Regions from separate parts of the Homo sapiens genome. Here region 1 is linked to region 2. The links come from fine-mapping of genetic effects on gene expression. Tissue or cell type: whole blood. Region 2 holds a variant in brackets; the other region holds the start of a gene. All regions are shown on one strand. Distances are from middle to middle.

The links. PIP is the estimated chance that this variant, and not a neighbour inherited with it, causes the effect.
Region 1: it holds the start of CES2, and the variant in region 2 is fine-mapped to the expression of CES2 in whole blood (INTERVAL, PIP 0.93).

The regions. Positions count from the first base shown.
Region 1 is chr16:66,933,212-66,938,330 of GRCh38, forward strand. CES2 (carboxylesterase 2) reads left to right here and starts at 2,305. Exons shown (of 12, transcript NM_001365405.1): 1 at 2,305-2,500; 2 at 4,826-5,030. The coding sequence starts at 2,425. It overlaps CIAO2B (cytosolic iron-sulfur assembly component 2B), which reads right to left and starts at 1,191. Exons shown (of 5, transcript NM_016062.4): 1 at 1,012-1,191; 2 at 776-855; 3 at 403-528. The coding sequence starts at 1,153. RefSeq lists enhancers at 797-846, 877-1,076, 1,915-2,527.
Region 2 is chr16:67,912,481-67,917,675 of GRCh38, forward strand. All of the region lies in intron 2 of PSKH1 (protein serine kinase H1), which reads left to right. Among named protein-coding and RNA genes, the nearest start is that of CTRL, 17 kb to the right of the region's middle. RefSeq lists an enhancer at 3,236-3,759. The variant AGAGT/A (reference allele first, on the strand shown) is at 2,726.

The sequences.
Region 1 (5,119 bases), 980 kb before region 2:
CTCCTAACCTCAGATGATCCACCCGCCTCAGCCTCCCAAAGTGCTGGGATTACAGGCGTGAGCCACCGCGCCCGGCCCTAGCTATTCCAATTCTATCCAAAGAACTGGCCCACTACTGTTGATTTAAAGGCCTGCCTGTGCCCCACCCCTGGTCCAAACCCATCTGCCGCTCCCTACTGCCCTTCCTGCCACACTCTTCAATACTTTTCTCCACTTTCCAGCTCAGATCTTTATTCTTGTCACATCGACTTGGAAAGCTTCCTCCCAGTTTCCTCTCTGCTAATGGGGATCCTTCCAGGCCCCACTCTGATGTCCTATCCATGTTCATGCTCTCCCAGTCCCCATCCTCAGCAGTAGACCCTCAATGCCTGGTCTCACTCCCGGGGCTCAGCTCCAACTGACCTTGAAACGCTGAGGAAGGGAGCGCAGAAGCTTGACCTTGATGGACAGACCAATAAGGGTGGCCATGCTGCAGTGCGGAATGGTTGGTGTGAAAGCCACAGCCACTGTACTCTCGGGGTCGCTAACCTGGTTGTGGAGGAGAGATGTCAAGAGTCAACCACCCTCAGCCCAAGGTCCCTCTTCTTAGTTTGTTGTTTTGGGCAAATCATCCAACTTCTATGGGCCTCAGTTTCAACACCCATAAAATAGGCACAACAATCTCCCTCCCCAAAGATACCCTTCGGTGTTCGTGAGCATAGAGCACGCCAGCTCCTGCTGCACAGAAACCTTTCTGACTCTCTGGAACAACTCGCTCCCCTCGGAAGTGACTCACCTGAACCCGCACCTGCTCTACTACGTTCAACTCCTCTAGCGTCAGTGGATGCTCCGGGTCATTGATGGAGCGAATCAGATGTGGGAAGTGAAGGAAAAGGGACTCTGCGCCCTTGCCCACTTAGAACCCTCTGCCAGGAACGCCCTGCTGGGATGCGGCTCCACCAGCTGCTCGATATCACTGCTCCCCCCACCGCAAGCCCCCGGAACCCGCCCGCGCCCAGCAGCGGCGGATATCGAAGATCTCGCGTGCGTCGATGCTGTCGGGAACCTGCTCGTCCTCCTCGCCTGCCGTCACAGGCCGCTCCCCAGAGCGCTGGTAGATGAGGGGGTTGGCATTCTCCAGGAGGCCGCCGCCGACCCCGCCGCCGCCTACCATCGCGGAACCACCACCGCTGATCCTAGCAGGCGTGCGCTTCCGCTCCAACCCGCGCACTTCCGGAGAACGGGAAGGGGGCGTGGCGTGGCGACGGAGTCGCGCGAGGGACACGCCGCGTTGTGGGTTCTCGGCCTGAGGTGCGAGAGAAGCGGTGACCGCGGCCCTGGCTGCTCGGACCCGGGAACATGATGGTCGCTGGAGCAGAAGGCGCTGAGAAGGGACCACGGCGGCGCTGGGTCGTGCGAGCCAGTAGCGGGCTGAAACGTAGAGGCCAGAACCAGGTCTCAGGGGGCACTAAAGGCGGTCGGAGGTAATCCCCACACCGCTTCCTCCTGGAAGTCAGGCTGGCCGGGAGCTCCCGTATCCAGGACGGTTGGTCGCCTCTGGCCTGGCAGGGATCCTAGTGTCTCGGGACCTCCCGGTGACGCGCCTGCCTCCCCTGCTGCACCATAGGCCCGGGAGTACGGCGTCCCCACAGCTTGGACCGGCAGGGGCTCGTGAAATGTTTGTCAAGTGGATAAATGACCATGGCCGTGGTCTCCGCGGGAGGTGAGGAAACTGAAAGCCACCGAGGAAAAGGGGGGCGCTCCTTAAGAAGTGCCGCGGTCACGTGTACGTTTCAAAAGAATGGCGTGACTGAGTAGGGAGGGGACCGCGGAGACCCTCAGACCCTGGACTGTAAGGAGATGAGGGGCCGTGAAGGGGAACCCAGGAAACTGAGTCCTGAAAGCAAGGAGGAACTTCCAGAATGAAGGGCGCCGACACTCCTTCCTGCCTTTGCTCAAGCGGTTCCTTCACCCCGATCAAGTTCCTTCCCATTTCTCCATCTGGGGGATCCTGAACGTGCACATCCTCAGAGAAGCCCTCCTGGGGTCTCCAATTCTAGTTTATTGCCCCCTCCTATCGATCCCCCAGCGCGCTCATCGGGCCTGTGGACAAGGACAGGTTTGAAGAGAGGATTCCCTGGATCGCGGAAGGGCTGCAGGAATGGCACAGCCCCTTCCGAGGATGCCAAAGGAGCCCGGGCAAAGGAAAGTGGCCGTGCCCGGGCCTGCCTACCACTAGATCCCCACCCACCTATGACTGCTCAGTCCCGCTCTCCTACCACACCCACCTTTCCCGGCCCAAGCCAGCGCACCCCGCTGACTCCCTGCCCAGTCCAAACTCCAAGGCTGGGCAAGGCACTGATCCACTGCTGGACAGACCCGGGGCAGCCTCTGGGTGAACAGCAGCGTGTCCGCCGGCAGCGAACCGAGACCAGCGAGCCGACCATGCGGCTGCACAGACTTCGTGCGCGGCTGAGCGCGGTGGCCTGTGGGCTTCTGCTGCTTCTTGTCCGGGGCCAGGGTGAGGCTCCCTCGGAGGGGCGACAGGGACCGGGCTCAGATCTGCCAAATGCTGCGGAGGCAGAACCTGACAGTGCGGGAGGGCAGGCGCCTGGGAGGTAGGAGCTGGTGGAGATGACAGCGTGGAACTCGTGAGCCCCACGCAACGCCTCCCCGCCGCCCAAGGTGGGCTCCTAGAAGCACAGAAAGGGTCGGGCTGGGGGACACCACGGCAAGGAACCAGCGGAGTACAGGGGCCCCAGGAGCGCCGGGACATGCCAGGCCGGGTAGGCAGCCTGGGGTCGGAGTGGGTGAGGGATTGGGGTGTGGGGATTCAGTCCATTTCCCTCTTATGATTGTGGCTGTAGCGGGTGCTGCCGGCCGGTAATAACAGTAATAGCTTCTGGCAGCATCTGGCTCTCAGTGTGTGGCGTCCTTGGCCAGGGGGGATGCCCTGAGCCCTCCAAAGGGGCCTCAGACAAGGATAGTGGTCCTTGGGGAACAGAAGCCCCCAGGCGCCAAATCCTAAAGCAGATCTAAGAGGCCACAGTGGCTGGGTGCGATTGGCTCACTCCTTTAATCCCACCACTTTAGAAGGCCAAGGGAGAGTATCGCTTGTGCCCAGGAGTTGGAGGCCAGCCTGGACAACATAGTGAGACTCGGAGTGTACAAAAAATTGAAAGAAATTAGTGGGCTGTGGTGGTCTGTGACCTGTAGTCCCAGCTACTTGGGAGGCTGAGGTGGGAGATCACTTTAGTAGGGGAGGTTGAGGCTGCAGTGAGCCTTCATCCCACTACTGCACTCCAGCCTGGGTGAAAAAGCAAAAATCTGTCTCCAGAAACAAGAACCAAAGAGCTCGTGGTGTCCCTCATGCCATTTACCTCATCCTGGGCAAGGGCACAACTTGGCTTCCAGGGCAAAGGTGAAGGCTCTGTGTGCCTGCCAGGCTTCTCCAGGCCCTTATCAGAAGCTGGGGGAGTGTTTCGGCCTTTGGTCCTCTCACCCGAAACTCTCCTAAGTGTATGATCTGTCTCTTCCAACCCTTCCCCAATTTAATTTGCGCAGGTGGAGTCCATACTCCCCCCGCCCCATGGTGCACTGCTGCAGGGCTTCCTCCCGTGCCTGCCCTTGACCACATTCTAGAGTTCACCAGGAGCCCAGCAGGAAGATCTGCCTGGCCTCACAGATGGCTACCTTTTAAAATATTTTGGGCCAGGCACAGTGGCTCACACCTGTTATCCCAGCACTTTGAGAGGCAGAGATGGGAGGATCACTTGAGGCTAGGAGTTAGAGACCAGCTTGGGCAACAAGACTTGTCTCTACCAAAAAAAAAAAAAAAAAAAGTCAAGCATGGTGGCAGACAGCTGTACTCCAAGCTACTCAGGAGGCTGTGGCGGGAGGATCTCAAGCCCAGGAGGTGGAGGCTGCAGTGAGCTGTTATCATATTACTGCATTCCAGCCTGGGCAACAGATGGCGACCTTGTCTGACAAATATATATGTATACAAAATTTTGGGTTGGACCCACATTCAGAAAAAATAATTGACAAGCCATAGGAGGGTACAGGTGATGTGTGCCATCCTCTTTTTACCCAACCAGTCCTGGCTTCTCCTCAGGGGCCATCAAAGTCCCCATGGCCCACACTGGAAACTGCTTGTTGACACCGCAGTACACACAGTGCCCAGCAGTTTACACAAGAATAGATGTGTGCACTTGTCCTTGATTTTCATCTAAACAGTCATAAACTCACCCACTTTCTGGAGCCAGGCTTTTCTACAGCTGGGACTACAGGCATGCACCACCACACCCCGCCAATTTATTTCCTGATTTTTTTGCAGAGACAGAGTCCCACTATGGTCCCCAGGCCAGTCACTGTGCTTTTTATATCCCAGCCACAGCCATACTTTTCTCTTGCACCTCTTTTCACCAACATCACTCATGGTTTGGATGATGCTTTCTTTACATGATTTCTTGCCACTTTGGACATGACATCCCTGAGGACAAGAAACTTGCCTGCCCAATTCCCACCATCATCCTACTGTCACATGACCTGGCACACAGTTGAAGGACACTCTAGTCCCATCAAGGGCATGTGACCCTTTGTTTGAAGGTCCTAGGGCTGAATGATGATGCCTGGCCCCAAGGAGCCTCAGCCTGGTGGGATGGAGACAGGCCCAGGAAGCCAGAGCGGGAAGGGAGTGTTACAGGCAGGAAGTTTGTAAAGCCCATGTTTACAGATCAGAGTCCCTTGAGCTAAGATGAGGATGGCAAGGAAGCAGCAATACCAACAGTTGGGAGGGCAGTCGATTGGTCAAACCCAACCGTGATGTCTGTCTCTCTGCCCACAGGCCAGGACTCAGCCAGTCCCATCCGGACCACACACACGGGGCAGGTGCTGGGGAGTCTTGTCCATGTGAAGGGCGCCAATGCCGGGGTCCAAACCTTCCTGGGAATTCCATTTGCCAAGCCACCTCTAGGTCCGCTGCGATTTGCACCCCCTGAGCCCCCTGAATCTTGGAGTGGTGTGAGGGATGGAACCACCCATCCGGCCATGTAAGCTCTCCAAGGGGTCCAGGGAACTCCAGGCCCTGGGGCAGGGGTGGGGGTGCTCTGAGCTCAGCTAGGCTGCAGTTATCATTTCA
Region 2 (5,195 bases):
GTAACGTTGGGGCAATGCCTTGATGTTTACTTGGTTCTCAGATATGGATTGGCCATCAGGTTGGCACAATCTGTGGCTATAAACTGGCAATAAGAAATCCTCTCCCAGCCGGGTACGGTGGCTCACGCCTGTAATCCCAGCACTTTGGGAGGCCAAGGTGGGCAGATCACCTGAGGTTGGGAGTTCGAGACCAGCCTGACCAACATGGTGAAACCCCGTCTCTACTAAAAATGCAAAATTAGCCGGGCGTGGTGGCACATGCCTGTAATCCCAGCTACTCGGGAGGCTGAGGCAGGAGAATCACTTGAACCCATGAGGCAGAGGTTGCAGTGAGCCGAGATTGTGCCATTGCACTTCAGCCTGGGCAACAAGAGCGAAACTCTGTCTCAAAAAAAGAAACAAAAAAAAAGAAATCCTCTCCCAGGCTGGGCATGGTGGCTCACATTTGTAATCTCAGCACAGTTTGGGAGGCTGAGGCAGGAGGATCACCTGAAGCCAGGAGTTTGAGACCAGCCTGGGCAACATAGCGAGACCCCATCTCTTAAAAAAAATTTTTTTTAGCCAGGTGTGGGCACATGCCTGTAGTCCCAGCTACTCAGGAGGCTGAGGTGGGAGGATCACTTGAGCCCAGGAGTTCAAGGTTGCAGGGAGCTGTGAATGTGCCACTGCACTCCAGCCTGTGTGAAGACGGAGTCTTGCCCTGTTACCCAGGCTGGAGTGCAGGGGTGCGATCTTGGCTCACTGCAGCTTCCGCCTCTCAGGTTCAAGTGATTCTCCCGCCTCAGCCTCCCGAGTAGCTGGGACTACAGGCATGCGCCACCACGCACGGCTAATGTTTTGTATTTTTAGTAGAGATGGGGTTTCACCATGTTGGCCAGGCTGGTCTCAAACTCCTGACCTCAGGTGATCTGCCTGCCTTGGCCTCCCAAAGTGCTGGGGTTACAGATGTGAGCCACCACACCTGGCCAAGACCCTGTCTTAAAAAAAATTTTTTTTTTTAAAAAGCCTGTCCTGGTGTTCTGGGATAGAGCTATAAAAGCATGCCAGGTTGCTGGCAGGAGCTTGAAGGAGGTGCTGCCTCTGCTTACCAGGAGACCGTCTAGCTGTGAAGTGAGTGGCTGGAAGGAGTGATTGCTGGGTCCCATTCTAGCGATGTCTGTCCTCACCTCCATGCAGAAAAGTAAAGAGAAACCAGAGCCCTGCCAGGGAGTGGCAGAGGCTGGTACTTCTCAGACTCCTGATGTTCATACACATCCCCTGGAATCTCGTTAAAATGTAGATTCTGATTTAATAGGTCTAGGTAGGGCCTGAGGGTCTGCATTTCTAATAAACACCAGGTGGTGTTGATAACACTGACCTATAAGAACATGCTTTAGGAGCAGGTTTTTTAGGCAGGTGCCTTAAAAGTGGGCTGGGGTGGTGAGGGACAGTCTTAGAGAAGAGGGAACCTGGAATTTGGAGCATGGCTGTGAGGAGTCAGACCAAGAAAAAGGGAATGATAGCTACAGAAGTATAGGAGGGAGAAAGCAGGAGGCAGGCCTGGGGGCAATGGCCTGAGGGACAGGTTCATATATAGCTGTGGTCCGTCAGAGGACCCTGCAGGGTACTTGGGAAGTTCAGTTGTCCTAATAGCAGGCTCTGGAGAACCACGTGAAGTTGTAGCTGAAACTGAATTTTTTTTTTTTTGAGATGGAGTTTCGCTCTTGTTGCCCAGGCTGGAGTGCAATGGGGCGATCTTGGCTCACTGCAACCTACGCCTCCTGGGTTCAAGCGATTCTCCTGCCTCGGCCTCCCAAGTAGCTGGGATTACAGGCATGCGCCACCATGCCCAGATATCTAATTTTGTATTTTTAGTAGAGATGGGGTTTCTTCTTGTTGGTCAGGCTGGTCTCGAACTCCCAACCTCAGGTGATCCGCCTGCCTCAGCCTCCCAAAGTGGTGGGATTACAGGCGTGAGCCACTGTGTCCGGTCTGAATTTTTTTTTTTTCTTTGAGATGGAGTCTCGCTCTGTCGCCCAGGCTGGAGTGCAGTGGCACGATCTCAGCTCACTGCAGCCTCCACCTCCCAGGTTCCAGCGATTCTCCTGCCTCAGCCTCCCGAGTAGCTGGGATTACAGGAGTGTGCCACCATGCCCGGCTAATTTTTGTATTTTAGTAGAGACGGGGTTTCGGCATATTGGCTAGGCTGATCTTAAACTCCTGACCTCAGGTGATCTGCCCGCCTCAGCTTCCCAAAGTGCTAGGATTACAGGCGTGAGCCACCGCACCCGGTGAAACTGAAATTTTAAGATAGATCTGGGAATGTCTGAAGCTTGAGAAGCTGATTGTGTTCTGGGAGCACTGCATGGTGCCAGGCTGTTGAGGGTCCAGCTGGCAGAGGGGGCATTGAACTTAGCCCAGGAGTGAGGGAGAGAGATTTCCCAAGATACGCTGACAGAGGAAGGACTCTGCTACAAGCCTGTAGGTTTGCCTGAGTTCCTGATTCTGGCAGTCGTTGACCTGGCAGCTAATCTAATTGGAGCTTGCACAGTCTTGCTAACTGGCTATTGATTACCTGAGGGTTGGAAAATGACGAATGGGGTGGGGAGTGGGTTCCTGCCCGCTCCTACTGTAGCCGAAAGACTGGGTCCTTAGATTCTGTTGTTCTTCTGCTGGAATCACAGGGCAGGACTCTGCAGCTCACAGTGAATGAGTGAGTGAATGAGTGAGTGAGTGAGAGAGAGAG[AGAGT/A]GTGTGTGTGTGTGTGTGTGTGTGTGTGTGTGTTGGAGAGGCACTGCTCAGCCTTTGCTCCCACTACCCTTTACCTGGAGCTGAAAAGCATCAGTTTCCAGCTCCAGAGGCAAATCCTGGCAGGTTCTGGTGGCCCTTATCTGTGACCAGGAGCTTGCCTGACCCCAAAAATCAGATTCTATCACCCGCTGTGGAGAGCTCTGGGTTGGGAGGGATCCGTCTGGGACATTTCCTGGGGGAGGGGTCCTTATCATGAGATCAGGCTCTCTCAGCTGGAGAACATCCAGCAGACCCTCAGGCCCCACAAAACCTGTTGAATCAGAATCTACATTTTAATGAGATTCCAGGGGATGTGCATAAACATCAGGAGTCTGAGAAGTACCAGCCTCTGCCACTCCCTGGCAGAGCCCTGGTTTCTCTTTACTTTTCTGCATGGAGGTGAGGACAGACATCGCTAGAATGGGACCCAGCAATCACTCCTTCCAGCCACTCACTTCACAGCTAGACGGTCTCCTGGTAAGCAGAGGCAGCACCTCCTTCAAGCTCCTGCCAGCAACCTGGCATGCTTTTATAGCTCTATCCCAGGACACTAGGACAGGCATTTTTTGTTATTGTTGTTCTCCTGGCCACTGCCCACCCACAAGCACACCTGCTCACACCTGGGGAAAATGCAAGAGACGTGAAGGCCTGTTCTTCCTATCCCTAGAGGTTGAGATTGCCTGGGGAGAAGGAACTAGAATAGGGAATGGCCATAGAATGAACCCGCATTGGCAGACACATGTGAACACAGGCCTTGGCATAGAGCCACTGGGCCTGGGCAGTCTGGAACATGGACTATGGTGCTCAGGTCAGGTGGTTGGGCCCTGACCCCACCCACTCCAGCCATCTGTCCTATATGTGTAATAGGTGTTTGCCATTAGGAAGGCCATGTAAGTGAGCAAGCCTCTGCCAGGATAACCTGTGAGAGAGAGAGTGTTCCATGATGAGGGGGTTGTTGCTGTGTGAATGAAGGACCTCTGACGCAGCAGCGTTTGGAGGTATGCATTCTTCACCAGCGAGTGTCTCGTGGTGCTTGGTGCCTTTCTAGGGGCACCTTTCCTGTTCCCTGACCCCATAGAGTGCTCTCCCCTGTACACCAGGCCGGGTCTGGTGTGCCTATTTCCTGCAAGCTCTGTCCATGCAGCCCCAGTCCTCTGTCAGGCTCAGTGGCATCCATGGACTTGAATAGAAAGCTTCCTGCAGAAGATGAGTTTTGAGAAGGAGGAGGCCCAGAGAAGGGAGCATTGCTGAGTGCTCCAGAATAAACAGGAGATTGGGAGTGACAGAGCAGAGGTTGAAGAGGCTGGGGCAGGTCTGGTGTTTGTTGTTGGGAGCCCTCTGCACTGTGGGAGGAGCCCTCTGGGTTCTGGGTAATGGAGGAGGAAGGCAGCAGAAAGTGGGAATGGAGCCTGGCAGGAGGAAGGCTAGCTGGAGGCTACTGGAATAATTCCATCCTGTCCTCCTGGGGATGTTTGGGGCAGATCAGGGATCCCAGGGAGTGGGATCCACATGGCATATGTAAGCCACAGTATAGGAGGTGAAGGAGTATGGAGCAGAGTCCTAGCTCTGCAGGAGGGACATCAGCTTGTATGGGCAGACTTGGAGAGGATTCCAGGCTACCCTCTGACCTGGAGAGCATGTGGGGTCCTGCCTACCATCCTGGCACTCCAGATCCCCCAGCCTGAAGCCCATGCCCTAGACCCCACCCCACTCCCTGCACACCACAGGCCTGAGCCATTGCCCCCATTCACTCTCCACACCAAGCTTCTGCCTCAACTGTTCACGCTGCTCCCAGTATCGGTCTTAGTTGTTTCCTTTAGAAATAATGCTGCCTACTGCCATTGTGTGGTGCCCACTAAGTAGCAGACCCAGGGCTGAATGTTCTACACCCCCCATCTCCAATCTATGACAACCCTGCCAGGTGGTACGTAATCCCCCACCTTACAGATGAGGAAACTGAGGATGGTGAGGTTACATAACTTGGCCATGGTCTCCCGACTGGAGGGTGGCACATCTGGGATTTGATTCCAGGCTGTCTTGGCTTCAGAGTTCTTGGCCTGTCTAGTGCTGCAGTCTGCTCTCCCTGGTATGTGTGCCTCAGCACGTTGCTGGTTTCTTGTTTCAGTGCTTTCTGGCTGCTGATCAGTGGACACATCTCTCCTGTCTAGCCTGTAGGGTCCTTGAGGACAGCATGTACATCAATACATATGCTGTCCACTGTCGTGTCCAGGCTTAGTGCACAGTGGTACCTGTATGCTGGGTTGAACTGCAGTATTTATAAGTGATAACTGGTGGGGGAATTTTCTCTTGGCTTCTCCTGAGGGAAGCACCAGTGGCTATTGGTGATGCCCTGGGAAGCGTCCCAAATGTGACTGCTGGCAGGCAGACAGGCTGTGCAGCCAGTGGAGTGCTCCCCTCAAGGGGCCA